3 linked regions of the Homo sapiens genome follow. The protein of the gene in region 3 purifies or fractionates together with the protein of the main gene of each other region. This does not show direct contact. Each region holds a gene or a part of one and is shown on either strand. Other genes may lie near its edges.

What was found. The genes of interacting proteins can lie anywhere in the genome.
Region 1: the proteins of SLC7A6OS (region 3) and MTHFD1 purify together in Homo sapiens (affinity purification with mass spectrometry, with the first as the bait; one large-scale study listed by BioGRID). This does not show direct contact.
Region 2: the proteins of SLC7A6OS (region 3) and ECD purify together in Homo sapiens (affinity purification with mass spectrometry, with the first as the bait; one large-scale study listed by BioGRID). This does not show direct contact.

Annotation. Positions count from the first base shown.
Region 1 is NC_000014.9:64,412,353-64,415,852, reverse strand, and holds part of MTHFD1 (C-1-tetrahydrofolate synthase, cytoplasmic), read right to left. Parts: intron 3,382-3,500; coding exon 3,328-3,381; intron 496-3,327; coding exon 359-495; intron 215-358; coding exon 114-214; intron 1-113. UniProt on the Homo sapiens protein: Trifunctional enzyme that catalyzes the interconversion of three forms of one-carbon-substituted tetrahydrofolate: (6R)-5,10-methylene-5,6,7,8-tetrahydrofolate, 5,10-methenyltetrahydrofolate and (6S)-10-formyltetrahydrofolate.
Region 2 is NC_000010.11:73,151,009-73,154,508, forward strand, and holds part of ECD (protein ecdysoneless homolog), read right to left. Parts: intron 3,441-3,500; coding exon 3,248-3,440; intron 1,414-3,247; coding exon 1,285-1,413; intron 698-1,284; exon of another isoform or gene 1-697. UniProt on the Homo sapiens protein: Regulator of p53/TP53 stability and function. Inhibits MDM2-mediated degradation of p53/TP53 possibly by cooperating in part with TXNIP. May be involved transcriptional regulation. In vitro has intrinsic transactivation activity enhanced by EP300.
Region 3 is NC_000016.10:68,304,447-68,307,946, reverse strand, and holds part of SLC7A6OS (probable RNA polymerase II nuclear localization protein SLC7A6OS), read left to right. Parts: intron 1-3,500. UniProt on the Homo sapiens protein: Directs RNA polymerase II nuclear import.

The sequences.
Region 1 (3,500 bases), on a different chromosome or scaffold from region 3:
GCCAATCAAGTCCATTTATTTATGGCCCACAATGTACCTCCTCTATGCCACCACATGTCAAGACCAGGATTCAGGAAATGGTGCTTTCTTGTTGTTTGGTTTGTTGTTTTTACCTGTCTCTTTGATGAGTTCCAAGCATCCCTTAGGCGTACAAGGAATGAAACAGTCATTGAGGTCACCTCTAGCAAGTTTCCCAGCATTGATGCTAGTCAATCTTAAAAAAGTGATGGAAATAAGAAGGAAATAAAGGCAATTAGATGTCTTTACTCTTTAGAAACATTTATGCTGTATTCCCCAAATAGAAACATATTATAAATGAAAGCATGCAATGAGACATAGGAAGCCAAGCCACACTTACCCATCCACATCCTTCTCGGGTGCAATAGCATTGATCACTTCTTCAGTGTTAATGGAATTCTCTGAATCTAAAGGTAGCTGCACTAAGAACCCATGTACAGTAGAGTCTTCATTCAAAGATGTAATGTACTTCATCACCTAAAAGTAATACCATATATAATTTGTATATCACACAGAAATCAAAAGGTAGGAAGAAACACTTTCTAAGGCAAAAATTAGGTTGCCCTATTTCCCCCCAACACTTTAATTATAGTCCTTTCAGAATGTACCTTCCCCTTGAATCCTGAGAGCACCTGTACTTTAACATAGAATGCATCCCCTAGGTGTCTGGTAAGAAGTCCATCAAATAAAAGAGCTAAGAGGCTGGGCGAGGTGTCTCATGCCTGTAATCCCAGCACTTTGGGAGGCCAAGTCAGGAGGATTACTTGAACCCAGGAGTTCAAGACCAGCCTGGACAACACAGTGAAATGTGATATCTACAAAAACTTTTTAAAAATTAGGGCCAGGGGCTGGGTGCGGTGGTTCACGACTGTAATTCCAGCACTTTGGGAGGCTGAGGTGGGTGGATCACCTGAGGTTGGGAGTTTGAGACCAGCTGGGCCAACATAGTGAAACCCTGTCTCTACTAAAAATACAAAATTAGCCAGGTGTGGTGGCACATGCCTGTAATCCTAGCTACTCGGGAGGCTGAGGCAGGAGAATTGCTTGAACCTGGGAGGTGGAGGTTGCAGTCCGCTGAGATAGTGCCACTGCACTCCAGCAGTGAGTTGAGATTGTGCCATTGCACTCCAGCCTGGGCAACAATAGTGAAACTCCACCTCAAAAAAAAAAAAAAAAAATTAGGGCTGGGTGTGGTGGCTCACACCTGTCATCCCAGCACTTTGGGAAGCCAAGGCAGGCCTCCCAAAATATAGAAAATTATTTTCTATAATTTGCACCTTACAATACAATAGCAGCTACTGGATCACTTGAAGCCAGGAGTTTGAAACCAGCCTGGCCAACATGGTGAAACCCTGTCTCTACAAAAATATAAAAAATAAGCCGGGCATAGTGGCGCATGCCTGTAATCTCAGCCTCTCAGGAGGCTGAGGCATGAGAATCGCTTGAACCCAGGAAGCGGAGGCTGCAGTGAGCTGAGATCATGCCACTGCATCCAGCCTGGGCAACAGAGCAAGACTCTGTCTCAAAAAAAAAAAAAAAAAAAAAAAAGCGGGGACAGGTGCGGTGGCTCACGCCTGTAATCCCAGCACTTTGGGAGGCTTGAGTGGGCAGATCACTTGAGGTCAGTAGTTTGAGACCAGCCTGGGCAATATGGGCAATTAAAAATACAAAAATTAGCTGGGCGTGGTGGCGCATGCCTGTAGTCACAGCTACTCAGGAGGCTGAGGCATGAGAATCGCTTGAACCTGGGAGGTGGAGGTTGCAGTGAGCCAATATTGCACCACTGCACTCTAGCCTGGGCGACAAGAGTAAAACTCTGCCTCAAAAATAAAATAAAATTAGCTGGGCATGGTGGCTCATGCCTATAGTCCCAGCTGCTCAAGAGGCTAAGGTGGGAGGATCACTTGAGCTTAGGAGGTTGAGGCTACAATGAGCTATGATCACACCACTGTGCTGCAGCTGAGGCAAAAGAGTGAGACCCTGTCTCTAAAAATACAATACAATAAAATAAAAAGAGCTAAGAACTCTAATAACTTATTACAGCAATAATACCCATGTTACAATCATCCAAATCAAGATGTAGAGCAGCAATGTCCAATCATCTTTTCTGCGATGGCAGAAATTTTCTATAATTTGCACCTTACAATACAATAGCAGCTACTTAATCCTTGCAAAGTGGCTAGTACAACCAAGGAAGTGAATTTTTAATTTTATTTCATTTTAACTAAATTCAAATAGCCTCATGGGGCTAGTGGCTCCCATACTGGACAGCGCATATATGGAACATTGCCATAACCTCAAGAAAGTTGCTTTATCCTCCTACAGTTTAGCATTAATCTCCCACCTACAGGCAACCACAGTTCTGACTTTAATCACCGCTGATTTGTTCTGCCTAGTCCTGAACCTCATATAAAAGGAATACATATTTGGTTTTTAGAATGCAGATAATTACAGGCCAAGGATCGGTTTTACCTATTTTTTTGAGACGGAGTTTTGCTCTTTTTTCCCAGGTTGGAGTGCAATGGTACGATCTTGGCTCACTGCAACCTCCGCCTCCCGGGTTCAAGTGATTCTCCTGCCTCAACCTTCCAAGTAGCTGGGATTACAGGCATGCGCCACCACGCCTGGCAAATTTTGTATTTTTTAGTAGAGACAGGGTTTCTCCATGTTGGCCAGGCTGGTCTCGAACTCCCGACCTCAGGTGATCTGCCCACCTCGGCCTCCCAAAATGCTGGGATTACAGGCATGAGCCACCGTGCCTGGCTCCAAGGATCAGTTTTAACAAACACAACAGATGATTTGGAAGCAAACAGTACTGCAGTCACACTTTGAGTACCAAATGTTCATCCCTGCACCATCTCCTCTGTGGGAGTCTGTGAAGAAAGAATACCTGGAGGTGCCAGGCGTGGTGGCTCACGCCTGTAATCCCAGCACTTTGGGAGGCCAAGGCGGGTAAATCACCTCAGGTCAGGAGTTCAAGACCAGCCTGGCCAACGTGGTGAAACCGCGTCTCTATTAAAAATATAAAAATTAGCCAGGTGAGGCGGTGGGCGCCTGTAATCCCAGCTACTCGGGAGGCTGAGGCAGGAGAATTGCTTGAACCTGGGAGGCGGAGGTTGCAGAGAGTCGAGATCGCATCATTGCTCTCCAGCCTGGGTGACATGAGCAAAACTGTGTCTCAAAAAAAAAAAAAAAAAAAATACCTGGAGGTCTTGGCTAAATGTGTCAGTCCCCAAAGCCCCCGTAAACCAAAACCAGAGAGGAAACCACTTCACCTTCCCTCTTCACAATCAACTCATAAAAGCTCACCTCAGATTCTGTGGTTGTTCTTGGTAACTTAATGTGAGTGGCTTTGATCCCAATCTGCAAAACAGACATTAAAAGCAGGTAAATGGCAAGACAACTTGAGATATTGAACCATTTCTTTTACAGACATGACTAACAAGCAAGGAGGTGTTGGTCATCATTTCACCCTTATATGT
Region 2 (3,500 bases), on a different chromosome or scaffold from region 3:
AGCCATCCCATTACTGGGTATATGCCCAAAGGATTATAAATCATGCTGCTATAAAGACACATGCACACGTATGTTCACTGTGGCACTATTCACAATAGCAAAGACTTGGAACCAACCCAAATGTCCAACAATGATAGACTGGATTAAGAAAATGTGGCACATATACACCATGGAATACTATGCAGCCATAAAAAATGATGAGTTCATGTCCTTTGTAGGGACATGGATGAAGCTGGAAACCATCACTCTCAGCAAACTATTGCAAGGACAAAAAACCAAACACCGCATGTTCTCACTCATAGGTGGGGAATTGAACAATGAGAACACACGGACACAGGAAGGCGAACATCACACACCGGGGCCTGTTGTGGGGTGGGGGGAGGGGGGAGGGACAGCATTAGGAGATATATCTAATATAAATGACGAGTTAATGGGTGCAGCACACCAACATGGCGCGTGTATACGTATGTAACAAACCTGCACGTTGTGCACATGTACCCTAAAACTTAAAGCATAATAATAAAAAAAAAAAGAAAATCTAGACATTCCTATCAATGTCTAGATTGTAACATTTTTGAAAGCAAACAAAAAAAAAAGAAAAACACTATTTTGTAGCTTTAAAGTGCATTTCTTTTATTATGAGTTAAGATTCAATATTTTTCATATGTTTAAATTAAAGGTCACCTGTATTTCCTTTTCTGTGGACTATGTTCATAGTTCTGAACATTTTAAAATTAATTGGCTAGTATTATCATTTTCATATTGACTTAAAGGAACACTTTATGTATTAGAGAAGTCAGCTCTTTTTCATTTAGATTGCAAATATAACACTTTTTCCAGATTTGCTTTTGACTTTATTTATGGAGTTTTTCTTTCCCGTGCAGAAATGCTTAATTTTTGCATAATCAAATTCATCAGTCTTCCCTTTATAGCTTCTGGTTTCAAGTCATGCATAGAAAGGCCTTTCCTATTCAAATTATAAAAGGTTCTTGGTTTTTTTTCAAATTGTATAGTTTCAATTTTTATGTTCAAATATTTGATCCAATTGGAATTTATTTTGGTATAGGTATTAGGGAATCAACTTCAATTTTTCAGATGACTTCAGACTTGTCCCATCATCACTTACTAAGTAATCCATTTTTTTCATTCTAATTTGAAATGCCACATTTTACTGCATTCTTACATAAACAGGGTGTATTTCTGGACTTTGTATATTGTGCCACTATTCTATTAAGAGTCCATTTACATAAAGAAAGGAAACAACATTTTCTGGTTCAACATTACCAATTTCATGCCCAATTCATGGGCTCGGTACTGGGGATCAGATGGAGGAGGCAGCCTGTATCCACTCCGCCGGTCTGGCACAAACCTTTGTTGCACCAATTGTGCATATAGACATTTAGTGAATGTGACCTGGGCATCAAGACACAAAATACATGAGTCTTTTCCTGAAATTAAGATTGTGAATAACACTTCACAGTTAAATATAATGAGAAGTCCATTTATAAGCTTCATATTCATATGAAATGCAAAGAAGATTCAACCTATTCATTGCCTACTTGTTTTTAGTAACAGCTTTATTGAGATACAACTCACATACCATAAAATTTACCCTACTGCTGGCCAGGCATGGTGGTTCATGCCTGTAATCCCAACACTTTGGGAGGCCAAGGTGGGCAGATCATCTGAGGTCAGGAGTTTGAGACCAGCCTGGCCAACATGGTGAAACCCCATCTCTACTAAAAATACAAAAATAAGCCAGGCATGGTGGCGCACGCCTCTAATCCCAGCTACTCGGGAGGCTGAAGCAGGAGAATTGCTTGAACCCGGGAGGTGGAGGAAGTTGCAGTGAGCTGAGATTGCTCCACTGCACTCCGGCCTGGGCAACAGAGCAAGACACTGTTGCAAAAAAAATTTTACCCTACTGCCTACTTTTTAGTAATCGCTAGTAAAATTCTTATCATTAGTTACATTATACAGCAATTAAATGGCTGGAAGATAAAGATAATTCATTTTTTCTATTTCTGAGACAGGGTCTTGCTCTGTTGCAGAGACTGGAGTGCAGTGAGCAATCATGGCTCACTGAAGCCTCAGGGATAGGGTTTCACCATGCTGGCCAGGCTGGTCTCAAACTCCTGACCTCAGGTGATCTGCCCACCTTGGCCTCCCAAACCTCCTGGGGTCAAGCAATCCTCCTACCTCAGCCTCCGAAGTAGCGGGGATTACAGGCGCCCACCACCACACCTAGCTAATTTTTTTATTTTTTGTAGCGATGGGGTTCACCATGTTGCCCAGTCTGGTCTCAAACACGTGGGTTCAAGTGATCCACCTGCCTTGGCCACCCAAAGTGCTGGGATTACAGGTGTGAGCCACCATGCCCGGCCAAGAATAATTCTTAATTCTCTGGAAGAGATGAAATGTTTTATTGTTAAGAAGGAAATAATTAGGCTGGGTGCGGTGGCTCACACCTGTAATCCCAGCACTTTGGGAGGCTGAGGTGGGTGAATCACTTGAGGTCAGGAGTTCGAGACCAGTCTGGCCAACATGGCGAAACACCATCTAAAAATAAAAAAATCAGCTGGGCGTGTTGGGAGGTGACTGTAATCCCAGCTACTCGGGAGGCAGGAGAATCGCTTGAGCCCAGGAAGCAGAGGTTGCAGTGAGCTGAGATGGCTCCACTACACTCCAGCCTGGGTGAGAGAGTGAGACTCTGTCTCAAAAAAAAAAAAAAAAAAAAAAAAGGAAATAATTATAGAAATAGAAACATATGGTCAAAAATAGCTATAAAACATTGAGTATAAAATGGGGAGGCAGGTCTCTTGAAAATTTCCTTCACTGGGTGCAAGAAAAGAAAAAACGTGTATAGTTTGAGCATCCCAAATGTAAATATCTGAAATCTAAAATGTTCCAAAATCCAAAACTTTTTGAGTCCCAACGATATGCTCAAAGTTTTGAGATTTCAGAATTTTCAGATTTGGGATGCTCAAGTAGTAAGTTTAATGCAAATATTCCAAAATCCAAATAAATCTGAAATCTGAAATACTTCTAGTCCCAAGCATTTCAGATAAGGAATATTCAATCTATATTAACATGCTATGAAGAAACAGAATATTTCCTTTTTTTTCTAGAGAACAATTAAAATAATGTTTCATTCACTGAGCACTGAGAAATGTAAAAAGAAAAAAATAATAATGTTTCAACTCGGTTTCCAGTAAGAGAAACTAAATGACCAAGATAGAAATCTCACCGATGTCATTATTCGTGTTTCAGGCAAGAATGTCTTGAAAACACGACAAGCTCGCAGGTCAATAGGGTCTCGTAGGTAAAATGCCTGGACTGCTGCAGCCACCAATCTGGGGCGCTGCTTTAGCACTGCCACAATGCCAGCTGGAAGGAAGCAGTGTGCTCGATGAAGTGAGGCCTGAATTTTTTCTGGGTACCTGGGACAGGTAACATAATTACTTTCATTTTACAGTATATAAATACCTATAATTCTTATA
Region 3 (3,500 bases):
CTGGGCGAGAAGAGCAAAACTCCATCTCAAAAAACAAGAGTAAATAGCTAATTTAATTTTATAAAGAAAACTAGGAGATAAACTGATGACCGATATGAACAGAGATTTTTCCAGTAAAGCAATACCGACTCTAAACATACCAAAAATGTTTGCACAGAGTAATTATAGGGGAAAAATGAATTTAAGCTTAAAGCATGCTTGAGGTTTTATGCATACTAGACTAGCAGGAAAAAAGTAGTTGATAGCAATGCTGGCAAGGCAATGATTAAAAGCGTACACAATTGTAGGAATAAAATTGATGCAAGCCTTTTGGAAAACAGGATGGCATGGGAGCCATGTTTTACATATGTAAATTTATTATTGTTTGGATCTAAAGCCATGCATAATCTAGGAAAATTTTAAAATTAAAAATTTCTAAGGAAATTTAAAAATGACAGCATTTCTATGTTATGTTACAATGAATTTCTCCTTAAATTGACACAATTTACATTTTAAGCAAATAAATTCCTATTAGATAAATTTAATAGGAAATTTAAAAATTAAAGGACTTCAGTTCCTTTTAACTAGTAGTCTCACCTCCAAGATTTATCCTAGGGAGATAATTCAGCAGAAGCAAACAGCTAAGCTAAGCTATGATATTAACAAATGCTACTGTTGATTGACTAAGTAATTATGTCAAATAGCGTGCTAGGTACTTGTTATATTTTCTTTTAATTTAACTCATTTAATCCTCACAAAAACCTTATGAGTGAGATACTTTTCAAATGCAGGAAATGGCACATTCATTGCAACACTATACATGGAGGTTAAAAATTATATCCAAGAGGTTGACACATACAACTGTCTGGACCCTTAGAACTGATAACCATGAAAACTGATTGTGGGCGAAAATATATATGTTTAACAGTACAAAATGCTGTGTGTAGTGAAACTGAAAATATGGGCTGGGCTCAGTAGTTCACACCTGTAATCCCAATACTTTGGGAGGCCAAGAAAGGAGCACTTGAGCCCGGGAGTTAAAGACTGCAGTGAGCCATGATCATACTGCTGCCCTCCAGCCTGGGCGACAGAGCAAGACCCTGATTCTGAGTGAATGAATGAATGAATGAATGAATGAATGAATACACATGGACATAGACTTCAAAATAATTTTCAGCAAGGGTACGGTGGGTTACTCCTATAATCCTAGCACTTTGGGAGGCTAAGGCAGGAGGATTGCTTGAGGCCTGAAGTTCAAGACCATCCTGAACAACATAGCAAGACTCCATCTCTACAGAAATAATAATAATTATTTTTCTTCTAGCTAGGAGGAGTGGTGCACACCTTTAGTCCCAGCTACTCAGGAGGTTGAAACAGAAAGATCATCTAAGGCTAGGAGTTCAAGGCCAGTTTGGGCAACATAATGAAAACCGCCTCTTTAAGCAATAATAGGCCGGGCGCGGTGGCTCATGCCTGTGATGCCAGCACTTTGGGAGGCCAAGGTGGGTGGATCATGAGGTCAGGAGTTTGAGACCAGCCTGACCAACATAGTGAAACCCGGTCTCTACTAAAAATACAAAAATTGGCCAGGCATGGTGGTGCGTACCTGTAATCCCAGCTACTCAGGAGGCTGAGGCAGGAGAATCACTTGAACCCGGGAGGCAGAGGTTGCAGTGAGCTGAGATCACGCCATTGCACTCAAGCCTGGGTGACAAGAGCGAAACTCCATCTCAAAAAAGAAAAAAAATAATTTATGCTCATTATGGGAAATTTGAAAAAATATAGCAAAGGAGGAAAATCTCCCATTTTACCATCAACCCAAAAGTAGGTAGAATAGAACTGGTTTATTTCCTTCTGAGTACAAAATTCTGTATCTGTCATTTTTCTGTATTGCTAGTCTTGTACCTTTTTTTGAGACAGCGTCTCGCTCTGTTGCCCAGGCTGGAGTGCAGTGGCATGATCACGGCTCGGTGCAGCCTCCACCTGGGCTCATGTGATCCTCCTGCCTCAGCCTCTCAAGTAGCTGGAGCCACAGGCCTGCGCTACCACACCCAGCTAATTTTTGTATTTTTTGTAGAGACGGTTTTGCCATGTTGCCCAGGCTGGTCTCAAACTCCTGGGCTCAAACATTCCTCCGACCTTGGCTTCCCAAAGTGCTGTGATTACAGGCATGAGCCACTGTGCCCAGCAATCTTATATTTTAATGGCTGCATAATTTGACTGAGTGGAGGGACTTAGGGGTTGGAGCCAGAACTTTTGTCATAGGTAACTTTAAGTTTGCTCAAGGTTCTGCAGAAAAACTGGCATCTCTAGCTTCTTTTTGACTTTGGAGCAAGGAAGAATTCCTTAGTCTGTAAATTATAGCATTGGTCTCCCCTTGTCTGCCTTGGCCATGGGATCTTCCCCATTTTCCTGCGTGGTGTCTGCTTGGAGCTGTGCAGTGTCCTGTGATGAACCTATCAAGAGGAGCCATCTGCAGCATGTCCCTGTGGTTAATAAACTGACCCATGCTACCAGGCCCCTGGATAATACAGCCTGTCAGCACTGGAGCACATCTTACCTGGGCCATTTCTATTCTGGGGCATTGCATTTCAAACTGTTCTTTCCAGTAGAAAGACTATAGGTGAGCCCATTCCCAATTTGTGGTTAAAAGTAGGATGTCAATATATGGCAAGCCAAATGATGGGCAATGGTAGAGGTCACCAGGAAACACCTGTTGGCTTCTACAGGAGGCCACACAAAATAGAGACTCATTTCAGGTTCAGCCATAGGGGTGCTACGGTGGACCTACTGATCCCCAAAGAGAGAACATTGTATAATACCAAAGGATCTCAGAAGACCTATAGAAGCAGGTCTGACTCAGAGCTTGGGGTCAAGACTGGCCAGGTCTTCTGTCTTTCCCCTCTCCTTAGGCCAGTCTTCCCATATTTTTTTTCTTTCATTGTTTTGAGATAAGTCTTAATCTGTCACCCAGGATAGAGTACAGTGGCATGATCACGGCTCACTGCAGCCTCAACCTCCTGAGTACCTGGGACTACAGGTGCACACCACCACACCCAGCTAATTTTTGTATTTCTTTGTAGAGACGGGGGTTTTGCCATGTGGGCCAGGCTGGTCTTGAGCTTCTGGGCTCAAGCAAGCTGTCCACCTTGGCTTCCCGAAGCATTGGGATTATAGGTGTGAGAGCCAAGCACAAAAGAGCAGGAGCCTATCTTGTACGTTTCTATCTTAAAGTAAGAACTACACATTAATTTTACAGAGATTCTTGATTTTTTAATGTAATAATTAATTAAAAGACTAGGAATTCATGGGGATAAGAATCTTGACCACAACACTATGGAACTGTAGCTGAGCAAGGTGGCTCACACCTGTAATCCCAGCACTTTGGGAGGCTGGGGCGGGCAGATTACTTGAGGTCAGGAGATCAAAACCATCCTGGCTAACACAGTGAAACCCCATCTCTACTAAGAATACAAAAAATTAGCCAGGCATGGTGGCACGCACCTGTAGTCCCAGCTACT